Linked DNA regions of Homo sapiens: region 1 is linked to region 2. Evidence: fine-mapped expression QTL. Tissue or cell type: tibial artery. Region 2 holds a variant in brackets; the other region holds the start of a gene. All regions are shown on one strand. Distances are between the middles of the regions.

Region 1 (11,692 bases), 31 kb before region 2:
ATCAAAATTGACTTTATCAGTTAATTTGGATAAATAAGTATGGCCATTAGTCTTCAGCGAACCCGTACTGAGAAAAACACAGAATCACTGCTGTGGTACTCTTGTTAAAAATTAATCCAGATCTAATCACGAGGAACCATGAGACAATATATTAAAGAGAGGATACACACATATACATAAATACACACATATTCATACATATATGTACACCACATACATACACTATATATAAAATGTATGGCTTACATACAATGCAACGTATAATAAGTAAGGGTATGTGTGTTTGTGTATAATGGTAAGCAAATATGGTAAAATATTACCATATGGTGAATATGCAGGAAAAGTAAACAGAAATTGTTTGTGCTATTTATCCCAGCAGTAAATAGAAGAATGTGAGCTGTTAACATACCTGCTTATTTCTGGAAAGGGCTAAGTCACAAAGTCTTTCAAACCCTGCACTACATGACTCTGTGAAGTGAAATTTCTACATGTGAGCTGTGGCAGTCCTGTTGCACTAACAGGTATAAAAGGATGGGCTGGGCGTGGTGGCTCACGCCTGTAATCCCAGCACTTTGGGAGGCTGAGGCAGGCAGATCACGAGGTCAGGAGATCAAGACCATCCTGCCTAACACGGTGAAACTCCATCTCTACTAAAAATACAAAAAATTAGCCAGGCATGGTGGTGGGCACCTGTAGTCCCAGCTACTCGGGAGGCTGAGGCAGGAGAATGGTGTGAACCTGGGAGGCAGAGCTTGTAGTGAGCAGAGATCGCGCCACTGCACTCCAGCCTCGGCGACAGAGCAAGACTCCGTCTCAAAAAAAAAAAAAAAAAAAAAAAAAAAAGATGATACAACCATTTTGGCATGCCACTGTAATTTGTTGTCCTGAAATTTTCAAATCATTGACATCACAACAAACATTTCCCTTTGATTGAAGAAAGGGAAAATTTTGATGAGACATGAAGCAAAAATAATATTTTGGATGTAATATATCAACTACTATGATATATAATATCATATCTGTATTAAAGATACACATAGAAGGAAATATACTTAAACATGTAAAATAGTTATGTCTGGATGAGACAACAGTGATATTTTCTTACTCTGTTTTCTAAAAGTAGAACATAATACTTCAGAAGGAAAACATTTGGATAGGTATTCTATAAGGAAAAAAACAATGGTAATGAATGTTGGAAGAGTTACAGAGAAAGGAGAAATAACTAACAGATTTATAAATTAGTAAGGCATTCATTTTTGAAACGTTGACTTCAGCTGAATGGCGAGATTCATGAAAGATCAAGATATATAATAAATCTTAAGATGTAAATTCAAATCAGTCACACTTAGTTGTGTGATCCTGGGTAAATCACTTAGCCTTTTCTTAAAAAAGAGGGTATCTGTTTTGCCTACTGATAAAACTATTCTGTGAATCATGCAAGACAATTTGAAACAGTAATGTTTTAATCAAACAGTAAATACTAATGAATTTATAAATAAATGAAAAGTGAAGAAATATTGGAAACTCTAAAAAATTTCTTAGGTTCATTTTCTGGATACACTCATGAATACAAAGCACAAAATGTCCATTTATGGAAGCTGTTTTTTTTTCTCTCTCTCTTGCCTATGAATGTAATTTCTTAAGCTGATCCTCTGTCTTCTCATTTTACATTACTTCATTCATTCAATTAAAATGTGTGTTTATCACATCATTATAGATGACACACAAGCTCAATTTTAAGAGATGATCTGCTGGCTCTGGCTCAACCTCCATGTCTCAATTAAGTCATCTCAACCTAAATAAACACAGATGGGCATTGAGATTTAAAATATGAGCTCTGTAGTTCAAATGCTTGAGCTCAAATTCCAGCTGTGCCATTTTTTAGTTATCTGACCTACAAAACTGACCTGATCTTTCTGAGTTCCTTTCCTCACCCATAGAATGAGTTATTACTTCACTCATAGGATTTTTGTGAGGATGAAATTAGTTAATATTGTAAAACTCTCAAAATCATGTGGCTTAGTATAAGACTAAATAAATGAGCAATTGTTTATGATGATGATTAAAGATGGGTGTCCGACAAGCAATTAAAATATAACACATTTTATTCTAAATGCCTATTCTCTATATGACCAACTATTGAAATACCAGTCACCTTCAAGTCAAAGTTGAAATGCTGCCTCTTCTTGATACCTCTCCTAATTCCACAGTGAAAAGTACTTATTCCTCATATATTTTATTGTTAACAGTATTTACTTTTTAAATTGTCATTTCTTTTTTTTTTTTTTTTTTGAGACGGCGTCTCACTCTGTTGCCCAGGCTGGAGTGCAGTGGCACTATCTCCGCTCACTGCAAGCTCCGCCTCCAGGGTTCATGCCATTCTCCTGCTTCAGCCTCCCGAGTAGCTGGGACTACAGGTGCCTGCCACCACGCCTGGCTAATTTTTTGTATTTTTAGTAGAGATGGGGTTTCACCGTGTTAGCCAGGATGGTCTCGATCTCCTGACCTCGTGATCCACCCGCCTCTGCCTCCCAAAGTGCTGGGATTACAGGTGTGAGCCACCGTGCCCGGCCAAATTGTCATTCCTTATGTATTATATCATGCTGTGCATTTATCTTTATATCACCTACTAGATTGCTCCTTAAGTTTCAGAAATGGAGTCTTTATCTTCACATTCTAGTAGAGCATAACATATCTTTCACATAGTGTTCATTAAGTGTTCAGCTTTAAAAAAGTTAATTTCTGGCTCTTTGCTGTTTCATTGGTATTCAGGCAGTGTGTGTGTATATATATATATGTATATCTGTGTGTGTGTGTATATATAGACTACTGACCGTATACACACTTGATAAGTTTACGGTGTATACTGAACATATTATAAAGAATCGTAAAGATCCAATAATTTTAAAAATCCAATTTAATAAAAAAAATCATCTTCAACGCTGTAAAACCACAATGACCCTTGAGATGCCTAAAATGTCTGATCTTGCAGGAAAGGGGTGGAGGAACTAATTTAGCTTCAATAAAAGAAAAGTATTATAAGTCACCATAGAGAAAATATTACAAGTTTATTGCAGATATATCTTTCCAAGGCAGGGACCTACTCAAAGTATTGGCTACTGAAAATCTGTTTTCTCCTCAAAAGACTGTTTACATTACTCATACACAATAGGTTCTTTTGAACCTGTAGCTTCTATTTTTTGAGTTTTGTGCTTTTAATCCTTTGAAATGCTGACTTGAAGCTTAGTGATGTCTAATAAAAAATTATTGGACATATCCAGCTAGCTAAGAGACCCCAAGAGATTCAGAAGCAGGGTGGTATGAATTAGTACTTCAAAAATTATTTGCTTTTATCATGTAACTCACAAAAGCCAAAAAGACTTCCCTTTCAATTAACTAAATTAAATCACACAGACTTCTGGTGCTTTTTTTAAAAAATATATTGTTTTCTTCTAATTTTATTTTGTATGAAGCCACCGGAGATAAATATAACTCAATACTAGAAGACACATCTGGAACTTTCAAAATCAGTTTCAAAATCAATCCTTGCCCAGGTCAGTTTTATTGTAAACACTTGTACCCTCTGGTTAACAGAAATTCAGTGAGGTTTAGTTTCTGTTTTTTGTTTTGTTTTGTTTTGTTTTTGAGATGGAGTCTCACTCTGTTGCCATGCTGAAGTGCAGTGGCGCCATCTTGGCTCACTACAACCTCCACCTCCCGGGTTCAAGCGATTCTCCTGCCTCAGCCTCCAGAGTAGCTGGGACTACAGGCGCACGCTACGACGCCCAGCTAATTTTTGTATTTTTAGTAGAGACAGGGTTTCACCATGTTGGTTGGCCAGGATGGTCTCGATCTCTTGACCTCATGATCCACCCACTTCGGCCTCCCAAAGTGCTGGGATTACAGGCGTGAGGCACCGCGCCAGGCCGCAGAATTTTTTTTAACCTCATTTTACAAATGATGAAGCTGAGCAGTTGGTAACTTTTTCAAAAATCTCTGGGCCAGCAAATGGCCAAGAAACCAATCTAAGGTTAATCACCTAGCAAGGAGCAGATCGAGTCTGGCTCAAGAACTCAAGTTCTTGTCCATGCTATTCTGCCTTCCTTTAAGGTATTAGACAAATCAAATTTAGAGGATACACCAGTTATTTTTGTGACACAAGATGAAAGCTGCTGCTATATGGTTATGTTTTCAATTAAGGATTATGTACCTAATAAACAATGATTAACTGTTACCTACTCCATAAACTGTGCCCAAACTTCATCTAAAGACAGCTTATTCTATTTTATGATCATACATTCACTATTCGTCACACGAATAACAGCAACAGCTCTGGAAATGGTGTTTTCATTGTTGTGATTTTTTGTTTTGGGGGGTGTTTTTCTGCATTGAGCCTGAAAATCCACAAATTCACAGCACTCATGTTTTTTTCAGGTGTGATACACCTGAAATAGATGTATTGTCATGAAAGTGATTTGCAAACAACGTGATACAGTATCACCAATATCTAGGTTTTACTTTATATTTTTGTTTCAAACTACTGCCTCAATACTTTAACGTGAACAGCCTATTCCAGTCCCATTTTTCTTATTTTCAAGTTCTTAATCAACATTATCCCCCCCTTGTTGTTGTTTTATAGCACTTCCACATTTTCTCCTAACACTTATCCGTAGGGTCTTACAACAACAAAACCAAACAGTTATACCTGCCTGTACTTCAAGTTGCTTCTTTGGAAAAAGGAACAACAAAAACACTAATCCAGCACTGTTGCATCCCGACTTAGCAAAGGCTAAGAGTCTAAGATGACAGTGCCAAACACGTTAACAGGTGAACTGAAAAACCATCTCTAGCGGCCTCGCCATCGGGCGGTCTCCTCCCGATGCCCAGAGGCGACAGCTACCTTTCCGTTGCACCCAGAGCCCAGCAGGCCTCGATCCTTCTACTCTCCCGGTCGGCTCAAGGCCCAGAGGCAGTCTGGGGGCACAAGGAGAAGGTGCTGAAAAAGGCTTCCATCCGACCCGAAATTTCCACCTTGTCGGGGAGACAAGGAAAATCCGAGGCGACAGGAGGTACCGTTTCAAAGAGGAGGCGGCGACGAGGCCAGTGAGGTGGGGATAAAGCAGTGTAAAAGGCAGTAAAACTAACGCAGACTAAAACAGGCCTAAGAGTGACAGCCTAGGTTAATCGAGGGGGCTACAGGCTCGCCGCTGGGCGCCACCAGCGCCTGCCAGAGGGGCGCCGGGTCAAAGGGCGCCCGGAGGAAAGCGGCCACCAGATTGGCTGGCGGGCGAGCGCGCAGGCGCCCGCGGTGGACCTCGTGCCTGCCGCCGCTGCTGGCGCCGCCGCCTCCAAGAGGTCTGACTCCTGCAGCTACTCACCAGGGTCGGGTAATTCACTTCTTGCAAGGACTCGGCCAGAGGAGAGGTTAAGACCGCGAACATAGAGCTGACTGCCGCCGCGCCCCGAGCCCAGACAGCCCCTCCTCCCCGAAGGCGCGCGCACAGCGTTCCGGGCGCTTTCAGGGGCGGGACGGGTGGGGGCGGGGTCACGGAGCGGGCGGGGCTCGGGGTCTTCCGGAGCCTCCGGTCGCGGGTCTAAGAGGACTAGGGCGGGAGCGGCGCGGAAGAAAGAGAGGACTGCGTTTTGGGGCGTTCTGTCAGAGGGGAAGGACGTGTGGATTGGAGTCAGACTGCACTCCCGCCCTATTTCTGCAAGTAGAACTCACTGCCTTTAGAAACGGTCTTCTGAGGCTCTGTTGGGAGGCTCTAACTGTATTACAGAGGACACATTTTTGTTTGTTTTTATGTGAAACATTCAGAAGTTGCTTGCATCAAGTGCTTTACAAGTACACTGGTTTTCAAACTTTTAAAGTTGAGGAACTGTTTTGATTTTTGTAAAAATAGAACTTTACTTGGAAGCCCAAGGTAGGCAGATGGAGATGGCGTTTTTAATTTGCGAATGTATTCTATAAAATCACATCTGTACTGAAGTACTAGAAATAATTGAGGATAAGTCAGATGTGAAGAGCAAGAACTTTTGAAATAGGATTACAACTGAAGGTTTCCATCTTACATTAGCTTCAGAAAACAAGAAAATGCTATCTTTTGTTTGGTTACATAGTAACAGGAAGTCCTTATTCAAGCTAGAACTTGCTGATGTGAACAGTTTCATAAGGGCTCTCCTTAAAAAGATTTTGTACACCAATTTTAATTGGGAAATATACATATGAGTATATCTCATGTGCATATCTTAAAGAAGAATGAAAAATGCCCAGGTACCCACTACAGAGCTTAAGAAAAAAAAAATGCCAGTATTTTTGGAGTCTTCTAGAAAGAAGACTCTCTAAAAACATCTCCTTCCTTCCGTTCACCATTATGCTGAATTTTATATTACTCATTCCGTTGTATTTCTGAAAATAGTTACATATGTACGATTCCCTAAAAATACTATTTTCCTAGTTTTATATTTCATATGTGAATCATTCTTCATTTTTCCCCTTTTTTCACTAATTTAGGTTTTGAGAGGTTTTGAGATTCGTCTGTATACAAGTCCATTTCCCATAAACTAGACTGGCACATCGTTACCCTTATGCTATTGTTAGACTTTTTAAGTTTTTGCTGATAAGAGCATCTGATTGCTCTTTTAATTTGCATTTTCCCTTTTGCTAAAGCCTGTTCTTAATTTTATCTCATTTTTTATTAAATTGCTTGCTTTTGAAAATTATTTTGTAGATAATATTTATTTTTTCTAGTTTAATTCTCTCTTGTAAGTTACATGTGTTGCAAATGTCTTCTCTTAGTTTATGGACTGTCTTTCCAGTTTTTATGATGTTTCTTGATTGCCAAAAGCTTTATGCTTCAGTATACAGCTTTTTGAATTTAATAATATTTTACATTTTAATTTTGTGCTTTTTGCTTTCTTGCTTACAAGATTCTTCCCAACATAACATCAGAAACTATTCTTTCTTCTACAAGTTTAAAAGTTTAATTGTAGCAACTTTAAACACAGAAAGGACAAATAATAATATAATGAACACCCATGCACTCAACTCTATGTATTAAAACATTTTGCAAACCCCTCCTCCTAATGATTCTTGTCTAAAATTGCCTTAACTATACTTGGCTCTTTACTCTTTCATTGAAATTTTAGGATGAGCCAGCCAAGATCCATTTAAAAAATTGGATTTCAATTGGGCATTTTATTCAACTTGAGAATTGCATTTAGAGATTTAGTGAAATGTCTTCTTATCTATGAACATGGTATATTTATTTTATTCAGGTACTTTATGTGCTACTATGCTTTGTAATTTATTGAGTATCTTTCATTATATTGCCTCCTAGTTTTATTACTAAAATTAGAGATCTCTCTCTTTAAACTCTATTTTCTAATTGTTTAGTAACATTGTATTAAAAGAGCATCAATTTCAATATATTGGTACTATCTCCAGAAGCTTCGCTGAATTTTTTTGATTGCTTGCTTTATTTCCCTGTTACATCTTTGGATGACCTATATAGGTAATCATATCATTTGTAAATAAGAATAATGGTTTCCTTCTTTCTCTCTTTTCAAACCACTTATTATTCAGTTTTTTCTTTTATTTATTAACAGAGCATCCAGTGCAATGTTTAATGGAAGTAATAATGGCATTCTTGTCCCATTCCTCACTTTACTGCAATACTGCTAACATTTTATAATGATAACAATGTTTGCTGTGGGTTTTTGGTAAATACTTTATCAAGATTATTAAGTGTTCTGTTTCCAGTTCATAATGTATTGTTGTTTGCTTTTTTTTAACCATGAGTGACAGTTTAATTGATTAAATGCTTTTTCTGCACCTATTGAGATAATCATTGTTTCCTATTCTAATATATTTATGGGAATGATTAATACATTTTCTGATGTCAAATGAGAGGGAGAGGATTTTATTTTATAAATATGTTAATGCATGCTCACTTGCTTAAAAACTGGGTACTTTATGACTGCCAGTGTAAATAAATTAGGCAAGTAGATTCTCATTGCATCACACTCTATTCATTGCACAATGGTGTTTATAAACTGGATTAGAATTGCTGCTAGTGCCTCATCTTGTAACTCTGACTGCTCTACCTATCCCCTGCTATTGTCAGGGAATGTTGAGATGGCAATGATAGAAATAATGTTGTTAATATTCTTTTTTTCTTTCACATCACTTTTTTTCACAGTGTTTTTATGTAGAATTTTTTTTTTTTACTTGACATCACTGGAAAGTCAGCAATGTTTTGTTGTAATTATCACATATAGAATGTTATTACATTCTGAATCTTGATTTTGTTTTCAAATATGGGATGGCCATAATAACTGCCACATCCAATTTTTTTATCTCTCATATATACATATAGATTTAATTAGTTCAATAATTTCCTGAATGTAAACAATGTAGAATTTAGTAAATTAATAAGCACTGATGGGAAAGGTCTCCAAGATAAATGAGCAAGTGATTAGTATGTTAATACTTACAAGAGAAATTCACATTATATTAATATAAATTTTAAATATATATGTGCATGTATGATATATAAAAATATCTGAAAGGATATATGCATTGTTACCTATAGGGATGTAACAGAAGGGGAATGAAGGAGAATTTTCTTTTTTACTCTCTGTAGTGCTGTTTTCTTTTTTAATGTGAGCCCATATTTATGTATTTTTTAATTAAAAATACAGCACCAGAAGAATATGCCATTTATCTAATAGATGGTTTCTTGGAAAGAAAAAGAGCTGCATATAAATTCATTTGTGTAGTAAATAGACATTTTAAATGTGTTGCATCAGGGGTAATCAGTCACTGAGAGTCCAAAGACAAAAATGATCCAAAGAAGGAAGAATGGAGAAAAAAAAAATCCCCCATTTTTTTTTCTTTTTTGTCAAATTCTTGTATGGAAAGATTCTAACACAATAAACTAATAGTAGCCTTTGGTTTATCCTAATTAGCATTTATTAAAATCATAGTCCCCACCCCACAAGATCCTTCAGGTTAATCCTATCTTGCTACTAGAAAAGCGGCAGCCATTTATCTTATCTTTTGGCATCAGCATTGAAGAGTCTTCTTTGTATTTCCCAGACCTAAGCAGTTACACCTTCAACCATCTTTTTCTTGCCTCTATTTCAATGGGCCCTATTGTTTGTCTCCTGATTATTTCATGTCTATTTTTCCCTGTCCTAGAAGTTTCATTAGTATTTCCTAGCCATATGCCATTTATACCTTTGCTCATTACTCCTGTCACTGAAGATGAGAAATCAATTTCTGTCCATATCCTCTCCACTTACATTAATCAGAGATATATTTTGTAAGCAATAGAAATTGAATCTGGCAAACCTGAAAACAAATAGACTATGTAAAAAGTTACAGAATTTAGCATGAAGATGAAGGCTAGTACATTAGGTAATGGCAATGGATAGGAAACAAGAGGGGCTAGGAAATTGGGAACACAGCCTCATATAACAGTACAGATTAGGGCACTGCTGCTTTCAGGGCTGCACTGATCTCAAAGCTGCTGACACCACTATGAGTGACTTCTCAACTCTGTGTTGTCTACCTCGTTGCTTCAAGATTCAAATTTTGGATTGAGATCATTTGATTAGCTTACTCTAGGCTGTATGTCTTTTCCTCCTTAGCCTCCTTGAAGTAGAGCCCAGAACTTTTGGCTTTAATGGGAAATTGGGCACAAAACACAGAATACATTATTCTTCCAAAACCTGAAGGATTTTTAGATTCTAAGTAGTAACAAAATAAAATAAACTAAATCCCCAAACAATAGTCCAATTATCCATCACAGTATGCTTCACTGTCCATATAAAGTCTACTTTCTCCCTTACTATTTTATACTTACTGTTTTATTCTTTTAATCCCTATACATTTATAGGGAGTAATATGAAACAGCAATAATTTCTTAATTAACTAAATTGTTCTGTTCTTTTTATCATATCTGGTATCTGTGAAGGTGTAACTAAGGTATTCCTTGACACAGTTTGGGATGCAAAGAATGTAACTCCAATAGTGCCATGAGTAAAACACTAAAGTTTCCACCAATTTATAGCAGTAGATAATTCAGAGAGCCAAACTCATTGTTTCCCCTAATGCTCTGATCCTTTCACTGTACCTACCAGCATCCTGACAGCAAGGAATCCATTCTAACTCTATCCCACATAAATTCACGAACTATTATCAGACCAAGGAAAAAACTTGCCTTGGTAGGTCATGATTAAAATTCACTGGCCTCGTAGTGGTCACAGGTTTTAGGGTGACTTCTTGATGCATTAGATAAGGCTCTTCTAAGAATTGATGTACATAACCCAGAATTAAACTCAGTGTAGGTAACTTCTAACTAAACAGGCCAAGCCCCTTTGGTGAAAGTTTTTCTCATTCTCTGATCCAAGTACTTGCCCAGGTGATGGCCCTCCTGAGTGACAGAGATGGGAGAGCGTTCTGCCTTCCCAAATAAAGAAGGCAGAAAGTTCACCTCTGGTTGAATGGTGCTGTTAAATGCTAATGCATTGATTGACTATATATGGAACATTTCTCCTTAAGGAAACCCTATCCTGAAGGAAACCCTATTCTGCAAACAGGCATGGTGGCAGCTAAGGGAGATGCATGTCTTTAGTGGAAACCAGAGCCAGCAGGGAGATGTAGCACTTCCTGAGTTCGGAAATGACTCCACCAGTTGATATAGGGCCTCTCAGTGTGTTGAAGGAAGGAAGTCCTATGTTTTATGATTGAGCATTAGTGTCATACTACAATCAGCCACTCCCCAAATGTTGCATCACTGAAACTCCAGGTTTCACAGAGAATTTCCTAAGGTATTAGGTTTGAGTTTCTTCCTTCGTGGGATGCTATGGATTCTTTAACCAAACCAACCTAATCTTTCTCCTGCCATAGTACCACCTTCTCCTGCCATGCAAAAAGAAGCAGTTTGCAAAAGTCAGTAAAAGAAAAAAAAAATGCCTTGTTATTTCTCAAAATGATGGGCTCACTTGTCTTCTATTTATATAAGAGAGACCACAGTAATTATTCTCAACAGTATCAGCTACAAGGTGATTTTCTGTGCCTGCGTATTCTAAGAAGTAGCTGGCAATTTCTCTTGTTAAAAGAGAAAAAGAAAAAAACATGCACTTACTCGCTGATAAACATTTTTCTGTTAGAGAACCCAATTAAATAGCAGGCCTGTGTTGTGTACGTCTTTTATACACCCTGTAATGCCAGGTTCCATGAAGGCAGTTCCAGAGATAGTCTAATTCAGAGCTGGGGCTCCAACTCCCAACACATAGTAGGTGCTTGTAGTAGGATGATAATAATTCCCAAAGATACAGAGGTCCTAATCCTCTGAACCAGTGAGTAATAATTCAAATGGCAAAAGGGACTTTGCAGGTGTGAGGAAGGATCTTGAGATGAGAGTTGTCTTGATGGACCCTAAATATAGTCACACATGTCTTTATAACAGGGAGGCAAAGGGAGATTTGACAAAGAAGGCGGCAATGGGACTACTGAAACAAAATGCTAGGCTGCTGGCTTTGAAGATCAGACTAGGGACCAAAAGTAAAGGAACGCAAGCATTTCATTCAAGCTCTAAAAGCCAGAAAAGGCAAGAAAAACCTTCAGAAGGGAGAGTGACCATAATAATACCTCAATTTCAGCCCAGTGAAACTGACTTCAGAC
Region 2 (11,692 bases):
AATAACCCTAGAGGAACCTTGACCTAGAGATGAGCCTAACCATAGTGGTGAAATAGAACTTGCTGCCAGGAGTTAGGAAAAGTGCATTTCAGGACATAGAGTACAGTGTTGAAAAGGAATCACAATAGATGTTAGTTTTGGAAGCTGTGGTGTCAGAGACAAAGCGTGCTGTTAGGGATGCATTTAGCAATCCTGGATGGGAGGCAGAGAGGCAGGCAAGAAGACAGACAGACAGGTGGCATCTGAAAGTCCCCCTCAGACCAGGCAACAGGCTTTGAATGTCAAGGCAAGACTACAATCCCTCTCTTTGTCGCAAGCGTGGGTAAACCCAGAGGACCTAAAGTATTGGGAAACTAACCAAGAGAGGGAATTGAATCCACAGAGGGAAAGGCAGGGGCCCAGTTCTTCAGAGCTTCATGTGAGAATGAAGGCAAGACAAATTTCAAAACAACAGCAAGACCAGTGGCACAGATGACAAAGCTCAGTGTCAGATGGTTGGACTAGAGAAAACTATCTAGGTAAATCTTGCCCTAGAACCTACAGGGCTCTGGATGGGGGTTAGGAAACCCCAGCTGTTAGAGAACAGGGAGCAGAGGATAGACAGACACCTACAAGTGAAAAATACTGAAAGAAAAAACTTCAATTAATGGGTGATACTGACACTTATTATGTCTCTTGAGGAATATTAAAAGAGTAAACCTACAGATCATTAGTCTGCATTGTTCTGCCACAGACAGTTTCTTGCCTCAATGCCCAATGTCTGTACTAACCACAACACTAACCTTTTAATCCTCTAATATTGTGGAAGGAGCTGTTTTCTAAAACGTTTAAGACCACCATATCATCCAGTTTGTCCCATCTGTGGCTCTTTCTGTTCATTTAAGAAATAAAATGATCATTGTTTTATTCCTGCCAATGACAGACATGGAAGGCAACTGGTGCTCTCTGCTGAGGCATGTGGCAGCAGCAGTAGAAGGTACTGTGGTTGAAAGAGCTGCAAAGCCCTGTATTCTGATTGCTCCCATTTCCCTCTCAGCGTATCTGAAGAGCCAGAGAATATTTCCAATCATCGAACTATGAATTATCCTTTTCAAAAGACTACCAGACAGCCAAAAAAGATAAATGTCTTCTGGACATAAGAAATTTTGATAGAGACTCTGCAGGTCCATAAACTCTCTGGCTCAAAATCCATGTGAGGGGAGGTTGTAATAGAGTCAGATGGTCTATAATTTCACCCACAATGTTTATGGAAAAATATCTTGTTTGGATATATATTTTCCTCATCAGGATAAGCAGATATAAAAGATATGTGAGTATATTGGCAAATGCTACATAAAAGAAATATAGCAGCATTTAAGCTGCAAGGACATACCTTGGAAAAGGTTTATTATCAGAAATTTAAAGCACATTTTTTAAAGCATCTGCTTGTGTCGTTAGTACAATTTTTAAAATATGGTCTCTGGTACAAAAAGAAAATACAAGATGAAATATCAACAGATTGACAAAAGAAGGATGTTAATTGAAAGGAGGAAGGTAAAAATTGAAGTGACAGATATAATAACAAGAACTCTCTCCATGAGGAAAAAATTACTGAAAGATGTACATATATACAGCTAAGAGATTAATTCACATAAAAGACTAAAGAATGCTCAGTGTTAGACATTATAAATGGTGAAATCAAATAAATTGAACTAAATATTCTAAATAGGTTTTGAAACAAAATACAAAGGAAATTCATAAGATAGAATATATAACATGTGAAAATGACCATAATAATCTACATCTCAAATTTCTGATTATAAAAACCTCGTTTCACCCAACTGAGAGGTGAATGAGAGCTAAAGGAAGCAAAGTAAAATAATACTAATATTCAGAATTCTATCAGGTGGTATCAAAGCATTATTTGGTTTGCGAAATTGATCATTGGAATTTATTTTTAACTTTTATGTATCTGTAAAATTTTAAAATAAGATATATATTATATGAAGCGTTAGCAATAAAGGTGAGAACATTGTATTCCATAAGGATCCAGATAAGAAAAAGACAGTAAAGAAGCGTTTTTTAAGTTAAAATTGAAAGGGCAAATGAACAAAGTTTTCAGATATAACAACTTAAAAGTTTTGAATTTGAATGGGTTAAACTGTTCTATTAAAGATCAGTCCAATTATATGTGGTTTCCAAGGGACGTACCTAAGGGAATATGACCTAGAGAGGTAAAAAAAAGGAAGAAAAGAAAAATAGAAAAAGAGACTGGCATAGATACATCATCTAAAGGCAAACAAAAGAAAGATCATAACATTAAAATCAGCTGTATCAGATTTTGAGGCAAAGAAGTCATCATAAATTATAAAAGACTTCAGTTTTATGTTTAAAAATGATATATCCACAATGAAGATATTAGAATCATAAACCTTTATATGAAAAATAACATAGCTACAAAATACTTAAAGTAAAAGCTGTGCTATACAATTTTACAAAATGAAGTTAGAAAAGAAAAAAATTTAGCTTTGAAGAAACATCTCCCAGGTTTTGAATACTCATGTAAGAAAAAAGTAAAAAAGTAAAGGCTATATACTATTCTAATTTATAGATTTTTAAAATAAAGAGATCAAGTATATTCCAAATAAACAGAATATACACTTTATTTTAAAAGCCAATGGATCTTTTGTAAAAACTGGTCATCTAATAGGCCAGAAAAATGTTAAATCAGTTACAAAAAGAAAAGCTGAAGTTGTACACGCCATGTTATTAGATCACAATACAAAATAGCCATTAATAGCTAAAGTTAAAAAGTAATTATTTGGAAATAAACAATGCATGACTCATTAACACAGATCAAAGGGGATTACAGATTCTTTACAAAGCAATACAAATGACAATACTTCATTAAATATTTGGTAGAAGCTTTATGCGCATAAACTATCTGACTCAAAATCAGAGAGGTGGAATGTATTAGCAATAGGTAGATAGTGAATAAGACAATGACAGTGCATCTATAATGTTTATAACAAATACCATGTGTGGATATACTTTTTATCATGGAGATTAAACAGATTTTTAAAAAATGAAAATTTGCATTAATATAGTAAATATAGCACCCACTCGACCACCAAATCTCGTGCAGAGAGTTTTTAAATGCTTTCAATACAAAAAGAAGAAATAAAAGACATACGTACAAATAAAACCCCAACAGAAATAAATTAATCATTCAAACAACCTAGTCAGTTTAAAATGTAGGTTTCATTATTATTCAGGTATTGTGACGCCAAAAATCAGGAGACACTGGCCATTGTATAGACAGTTTGTTCCCAAGAGGAAGGGGTATGCCATGCCACACAAGGCCATGCTGGGAAGCACCAGATTCAGTCAGGAGGCAGAAGGATTTGAGGGGTGATGGAGAGCGTGAGCAAGAGCCTTTATTTTGGTTTCTGCAGCAAGGTAAACAGGTTTAGAATTGGCTTGTTTAAATAATCCCAGCAGACTCTGGGGTATAGGAACTGTCCCTAGTTGTCTAGTATTTGACTCTGGAGTGATTAGGGCAGCGCATAGTGGCCCTGAGTGTGACAGCCTCCTAGAGGAGGTTGTGGGGTGTGAAAGCTCTGCATTGTTGGTTTGCATATGAATCTCACAGTCCTGGGCCAGTCATTTACTATGTAGGATATGGCTACATAGGAGCCAGGAGATGGCTAGTCCTGGAAGGGGTAGGCTTTCCAGGATCAGCAAAACCCTGAGATGTCAAAGCATCAGAATTGCAGGAAATGGAAAGGCATGACTTCATACACTGTTGAACCCAGCAGGTGGTTGAAAGCAGGGTTCCCCCTGCGTCAGGGACCCATCTGGCTGTGTTTCTTTATCTCCCTTCCATAATCATGACAGATGCTGTGACACACTGATACATTCCTAGTTAGGAATAAAGAACTTATTACCAGAGCTGCTGTAAGTGCTGTCAGTAGACAAGTCTCAGCTGAAGAGTTTCCTAGTCCGCATCACTCTTCCTTCCTAGGTGGGCCTCCATCCAATGATTAATCTGTGTAGGACAGGGTTTCTCAATTTAACATTTTGAACAGGATAATTTCTTGTGGTGAGGGCCAATCATGTGCATTGTAGGATGTTTAGCAAATTCCCTGCCCCACCCCCCAGACTAGATACTATTAGCACCCACCCCAGTTATGACAAACAAAATGTCTTCAAACACTGCCAAATGTCTCCTAGGGGGCAAAATCACCTATGGCTCATAATTAATGATGTAATTGATTACATATATTACATTAATAATTACATATATTCAATGACATGTAAATACTTTCAGATTTATATTCCAGCCCAGATCTCTTACCTAAGCTTCAGCCTCTGTATAGCTCACTCCCTATTGCCCATGACATTTTATCAAAAGACTTTACATATTTTATGCTTAAGAATATGAATTTTAGAAGTGGCTGCTTAAGTAAACATCTCATTTACTAGCTTTGTAACATTGAGGTTCTACTAAGCTTTTGTTTCCCTCAGTTTTCTTTCCTCATCTATAAAATGGACACAATAATAGGATCTGCCTCATAGGTTTGTTGTGAGAATCAAATTAATGCATGTAAATACTTCAGAACAATTCCTGGCATATTGCTAGTTTTCAATAATGCTAGCTATTACTATTAGTCAAGTGGTGTCTTGCAGGTACGAAATGCAGTGTGTTCAAGTCCATCTAAATTCCTGATCTGCCAACCCTGGTCATTTTTCTGTATTTAGTATTTCACTAAATGACACCACCAATCACTTACTCAAGCCAGGTGCTTAATCAATGTTACTATTGATTTTTCCATCTCCTTCAGCAACTGCCTCAATCACAAAATCATATTGAATCTGTATTCTTAGAACTGGTTGAATTTGTCAATTGTCTTCATCTCAATTGTCACTATTTTCATTAAAACGTGCTTCTTATTACAAGAACTATTGAAGAAATTGAGAACATGGACTCTGGAGTCACAGAGACTTCAGAATTAGGTTTAAAGTCCAATTCTACCAGCATCATGATATTAAGTAAATGACATTTTCTCTCTTTATCCATTACTCTATTTGTTTAAAACAAACAAACAAAAACAAAACAAAACAAAAGTGATAATGCTTGCATTAAAGAAATGCAAAGAATATTATAAGGAGCACTCTTTGTGTTACCCTAACTTGAAATAAAACAAATAACCATTAATAAGAGACTGAATTAAATAAATTGTGACATTTTTATATAATAGAATACTGCATAGTAATGAAAAGCAAATGGCCACTGCACAATCTTAGAGAATGTTGAGCAAAAAAAAAAATCAAAAACACACAAATCAGTAGGTAGTATTTATAAAAAATTTGAAATAGGAAAGACCCAACTGTATTGTTTAGCAATGTGTACTTAGTGATAAAACTGAAACAATATGTAGTTGTGATTATTATAAAAGTTAAAGACAGGCACAAGACTAAGGAATATTGAGGAGTCTTAGTTTGGGAAGTAACAGCCTGGAGGCTTTGGAGGTGATGACAGTGTTCAGTTTCTCAATCTGGGGGATGGATGCATGATGATTTATATATACATACTATATTTTACTGTATTTAATATTTTGTGCACCTTTCTGTTTGTGTTGTGTTTCATAAATTAGAAATGGTTAGACAAAAGGATAGTGGTAAATGAAAACAATATATAAATACAGATATTTTAAAAAGGTGATTAACACATCACCTTTAACCACATATATAGATACATACATACATACATATGTATGTATAAAGCTTTTGTGAATGAAGAGTTACTATTAAGCCTGCATATCAAGACTGCTTCAGAAAGATCTTAGATTCTCATAGGACTGTTTCCATGGAAACAGTAGTTTTAAGACAAATGAGGAATGTTTTGACTGGCTCATTTGTTTTGCGGAACACAACATCTGCCTCAGGTTAGAGGGGCTGTGAGTTTTCATGCACATGGGCTTTGAGCCTGTGGGATAACTATGGTATAAAAAGTTGGTGGGAAATAGAGGCTGTAGCTTCCATGTTTCAAGGTTGCACACACATCTTGGCAATCATTTGTGGCAGCCATGCATACATATGTGTGTGAGGATGTAAAGGAAATCTTTTTTTTTTTTTTTACTACTTTTTTGTACTTGGGTAGCTGCTGAGATGAGGTGATGATGAGATGAAGATGGTACACCTGTTTCATGTATTGCCTATTTCCTTCTATAATGCTAAGTAAACAGTATTATATTAAAGCTTGCCTGTGTCTCCTGACTCAGCTTGCTAGCCGAAGACAAATGCTGTGCTAGACAATGGTGTCAGAAGTAGCCTTGGCTTTCAGGCCCTTGAGTCAAATCATTGTGATGCAGGAAATAGGACAGGATAGGGTTGGGGAGCAGATTTTGATGAACATTTCATGCCTGGATGGCTGAGTTACCTAGATTTATCTCCTAGGAAACCGTTAAAATGGATAGTCAAAGAAAGGCAAGGGGAGGGGGCAGTTAAAGATATAAGAAAAGGGTGAATCAGATACAGCTGTCATTAGGTGGCTGTTAAGACACAGGATGAAAAGATAAGAAATTTATTGTTAAGACACAAGATGAAAAGATAAGAAATTTATTGAATTATCTGAAAAGATTTACTGGCTCATTATCACCAGTTGGGAAAAGGAACATTTGCTCCGTATCTGCCAGCTGCCTTCCTTAATGAATCCCATGAGATATGATCCCTTTAAGCCAATCTGTGTGAGTTTAACCCAGATTAGTCAGTCCTTTCTCTGGGAATAATCTGGCCTAGGGCCACTAGAAGCATTTCACAAACAGTAAAGAACAAATT[G/A]TCCTGACTCGTTTTTACTAGTAAAAGAGGCACAAAGGCTCAAAGGGCTGTTTGGATTCTGGAGGACACATACGTTGGCCCCAGTATACAAAGAGACTAGAAAAAGAAATGGATTTGAATGAGATCCAGAGAAGAAGGCAAGTCAAGCTGTCCCTTTGGTATTATGTTTTATAAACCTGACATTACCAGTAGTTTTAGAGAAGTCCACTACTAAAAAATCCAATGATGCTGTAAGAACAAAAGTTGTGAATAAACTTTGTGCTAAGAAAAGTGCTGAATAAAAAGTGTGCTAAATAAACACCATTGGTAGAAACAGTAGAAACCAATAAAGATTAACTTGAAGGCTAGGATATTTTGTCCTATCCCACAGATCAGTTCAAAGACCATGTGCTTTGGTTAAAGTCGAATATCCTAGGGTTGGTGAACAAAACATTTTGAGACAATTGAATATCGGTACATAAAGTACTATAATACATGTAGGGAGCAAAAACACAATGTTAAGAAGCCAAAGAGGAAGCTAAGGGCTGGGGTGGGAAGGAGATACTGTGAGGGAAGACTCCAAGGCCCTAGTAGAGCACCAGAGAGGAACATGATAAGGAAATAGTGGAAATAGATAAGAATAGTGCTGCTATTCTCTGCTTGAATGAATAACTGGAAAGGTTATGAAGCAAAAGCAGAAGGTCTTGCCCTTCTTAGTGGTCTATAGCTGAATGCTAGGGATTTGCCCTTTGCCAGGTTTTTATCAGATCTGTTAAGTGGGAGGCTTTACAATTGCCCTTTTCTGTAGTAAATACTAAACTGCATCATTTTCCAGGAAAGTAGCAGGAAATCTCAGTCATGATTAAAGAGGTCGTGGAAACAGTTGTGCTCATCCCCATCAATTCTCTTCACGTTAGTCCTGTCTGTCCTGTGAGAAAATGCAGAATTAAGTGAAACAATTTTCCCCAAAGTCTCTGTTATGCCAGACATGATTAAAAACTACCAGGAGGTTCGGCAGGGAATGTGCTTTGATAATAGAATCTGGAAAAAATGCCAAGCATCATTTTTATCTGCATGAGAGATATTTCATTACATATACTTTACTATCTTCCTCTAAGGTTATGCACATTCTCCAGGATTTAGCTACTGCCCTATAAGACAAGATTTGAGTCTCTTCATTTCTGAAAGCCCATTGATTCATGAAGCTGATGATACGATGATACCTCCCCTCTCAGAAAGTAAGCTGAGAATGGAGGCAAGGAGGATTTACAAACAATAGCTGCAATAGGACTAGATAAGGATGTCTAAAAAATCTGATTAAGATTCAGGACCCAGATTGGTCAGTCTTTTCTCTAGGAATACTCTGGCCACTAGAGGCACTTCACACACAGTAAAGAACAAATTGTCCTGACCCATTTTTACTAGCAAGAGAGGCACAAACTCTCAAAGAGTTGTTTGGATTCTAGGACACATATGCCATATTTGGAAATCCTGTTGGCCCCGATATACAAAGTGACTAGAAAAAGCAATGGATTTGAATGATATCCAGAGCAGAGGGTAGGCCAAGCTGTCTTTTTGGGATTTTATAATCCTGATACAACCAGCAGTTTTAGAGAAGTCCACTACTAAAATACACATAGACTGGAGTCCCTAGCCAAAGCCTTAGAATGCTACTTATAGGTGGTTGCAGGAGTTCTGGACTAAAAAAAATTCATGATATTGTGTCTGAGAACAGCCTATTTGAGATACAGGCATTAGCATGCTTTTTGGCTCTAGTAAGAAACAGCCCTCATACCCAAAGAGCATCAGATTACATTGCATTACCTATGGTGACTTGAGGCTTGAGTTATCTACAGTCTCATGGGTGATATAAAAAGAGATTCCAATAGAAAGGGAGTTGTACAACAAGTTCCCTGGTAAAATATGAATGATATATGATACAGTTTGGCTGTATCCCCACACAAATCCCATCTTGAATTGTGGCTCCCATAACTTCCACATACTTTCTCATAATTTCTACATGTCGTGGGAGGGACCCAGTGGGAGATAACTGAATCATGATAGCAGTTTCCCTATGCTATTCTCATGATAGTAAGTTCTTATAGATCTGGTGGTTTTATAAGGGACTTCCCTCTTCACTTGGCTCTCATTCTTCTCCTTCCTGCCACCATGATTTTAAGTTTCCTGATGCCTTGTCAGCCATGCTGAAAAATTAAACCTCTTTTCTTTATAAATTATCCAGTCTTGGGTGTGTCTTTATTAGCAGTGTGAGAACGGACTGATAAAATATATTTGGGAACATGCTAAAAAAGATAGACTCTGAGGAAATGCACTCTATCCATGAGCAGGTAACATCTCTGCCTCTACAGTGGCACTCTGGAGGAGCTACCCACTCTTATTGCCAAAGGTTCTGAACCCTGCTGAGACAAAATATCTGACTTATTTGCTAATGAGAGTCCTTGCACTGAATGATGGGACTCTATATGGAAGGCTACAGCTAACCTCCAATGTACTGTAAAAATCTGAGCTGAAGACACAATGATAAGCATACACAGTGGCCTGAATAGAGGTCAGTATATGTTATATGTTAATGGTTCAGGAAGAACTTGGTTCTTGGCCTCAGGCTTGTGTCTAAATATTAAAGCCTCCTGGGCTTTCCCTAGGACTGTGTTGCAGTGTCAGACAGGCAAATGCTTCCTTGATACATAGATACACAAGATTATCTTCATGTGAAGAGATGCAATTGTGGAAGTCTTTATGGAAACTCCTGGGGAGAAGCACATTTCTAGATGCCTACAAAGAACAGCCAGTAGTGTCTCAGAGGAGCGCTAGAAAGCCAAAGTAGATGCCCTGGTCTCCCAAAGGAGAAAATCAGTTGAGTGTATGAGATGAGCTGTCACAGTGGTGCTCAAGCCATGCCACGACAATTGGAAGCAATGGCATAGACCAGTGCTACCCAGAAAAGCCATTACTATTGTGACAGGCTGTCCTGAATGCGATCAAGAAGAAAAAAAAGTCCAAAAATGGCACTGGAGAGAATTCCCTGAGGTCAATGGCAAGCACATCACTGGCAGATGGATTATACTGAACCCAGTTCATTACTCCTGGAGTATTCCAATGAGTCTTTCTGGGGATAGATGAGTGTTTTGAGTCCCCCCACTATATTTCATAGGGAATGAATTTCACCATGGCCAAGTTTCCAAAATGAGACAAAAAGAACCATATGTAATGGACATATACTCCTACCAGCCACATAGGAGTGGCTTAATTAAAAATTGGAATAGTCAACTAAAACATTCATTTTGAAAGACAGAGGATGCTAAGGAAGTGAAGGATAAGAAGGGCTGGCTGGGAAGCTTATAAGGGGGTATGTGCTTCACCTAAACATGGGAGACATTGAGGGCGGAACAGCCTTAAGAAAGCTTTTTGTGTACCAGGAATAAAGGGTTGGGAAATGATACTGTGACATAAATCTTCGTCTTTCATACCTTACAAACCTTTCCTTTTCTGTTATCAGATCAAGTGCATTAGACAAACATTGCATTTGCCCTTCTTCCAACGAAAGGGAGCATACTACTTAAGATACTTTATTCCTTTGCACTTGGGTATATGTTTTCCTAAGGACATGTAGACAGTTATTTTGCCCAGTGTGACCAAGGTAGGACTGACCCTAAGTGCTGCTTTATTGCCTAGTGGTAGAGGAGGACCTGTTATCTTTTACCTTTGCAAACCTATCATCTATTTATAAGAGTGGGAAAAGGATTTGGTGAGGCTTTATTTTTATCTGGAGGGAAGAAAAGTCATTTGGGACATTATCCTGTACAAAACCTATGGGAGAGGGCCTGTATGCTCATCCAGGAAGTGCTCTCTGCTACACTTTATTTCTATTGTGTTTAAAGGAAAATGCCTGAGTGCTTTAGAAGTCCAAGCCGGACAGATGCAATATTAAAATGGTAAGGACCACCTGAACTATAGCAGGATGTCACTGGAACAAGTGATCCTGTTATCGTTCCCTTACAATATATACACCATGAATTTAAAAAGAGCCAGCATTTCCTGTGATGCAGTTAGTGGCCATCAAAAGACCAACACTGTGTCCTCTCTATAGGGTGAATTGGTTGTGCTCTACTTTTATATGTGGGAACCAGTGTCAATAAAATCCTGCTTCTTCATAGCAGAGGTATGATTAGGCCCCCAGGACAGAAAGAATTCTGGATTTACTGAATATTCTAGTGACTATTCCTGTCATTGAAAATGTATGGCATATGGGCAAGAGATAGTTCTGTTGGGAAGGATGAGGAAATTATACTGTAATAAAAATAAGTGTTTGGTGTGCTATGTATTACTTTAATATCTGCTGCTATCTGCTGTAATGTTAACAAGTAGTTTGTGTGCTAAGCATTACTTTAATCTCTCATCTACTGCTATTTGGTATAATAAAGTATTTTATGGCCTCATATATGGAAATTAAAGGAAATAAAATGTATAATGATCATGACCCCTCAGGATCAAAAGATATTTTGAGAAACTGATTTGAGATCCCCACTTGATGATAACCCCATAGAAACTAATTGTCCTTAGAGAAACTAAACACACGTCTAAGTGTCCCTAAAAACTTTTAAAAGATATATGTGATATTGAGTGAGAGGGAGACTGTAATTCACTAATAAGGCATCAAAAGACTTGTCTAGTATGTCGGTTAAGATGAACATGTTTTGGGAAGAAGATAACTATACTAACAGTACAAACTTGGTGGTCACAAGTGTAGTAGTTTGTTTTTTCCTGTGTACAAAATATTAGAGATGTGCCTATCAGAAAAAATACCAAGGAACATTTAAGGAGTATGTTTTGTGAAACATTGACTTGAGGTCATGGAGATGAAACTGTAAGTAAG

Evidence for each region.
Region 1: it holds the start of MANEA-DT, and the variant in region 2 is fine-mapped to the expression of MANEA-DT in tibial artery (GTEx, PIP above 0.99). The same link has a PIP of 0.9 or more in atrial appendage and subcutaneous fat.

Annotation. Positions count from the first base shown.
Region 1 is chr6:95,571,325-95,583,016 of GRCh38, reverse strand. It overlaps MANEA-DT (MANEA divergent transcript), which reads left to right and starts at 5,566. Exons shown (of 3, transcript NR_104136.1): 1 at 5,566-5,924. MANEA (mannosidase endo-alpha) reads right to left here and starts at 5,482. Exons shown (of 5, transcript NM_024641.4): 1 at 5,379-5,482. RefSeq lists enhancers at 4,883-4,982, 4,446-5,386 and silencers at 5,183-5,242, 5,523-5,612, 5,663-5,742.
Region 2 is chr6:95,540,533-95,552,224 of GRCh38, reverse strand. No RefSeq gene overlaps it. Among named protein-coding and RNA genes, the nearest start is that of MANEA-DT, 31 kb to the left of the region's middle. RefSeq lists an enhancer at 2,589-3,205 and a silencer at 7,345-7,545. The variant G/A (reference allele first, on the strand shown) is at 6,820.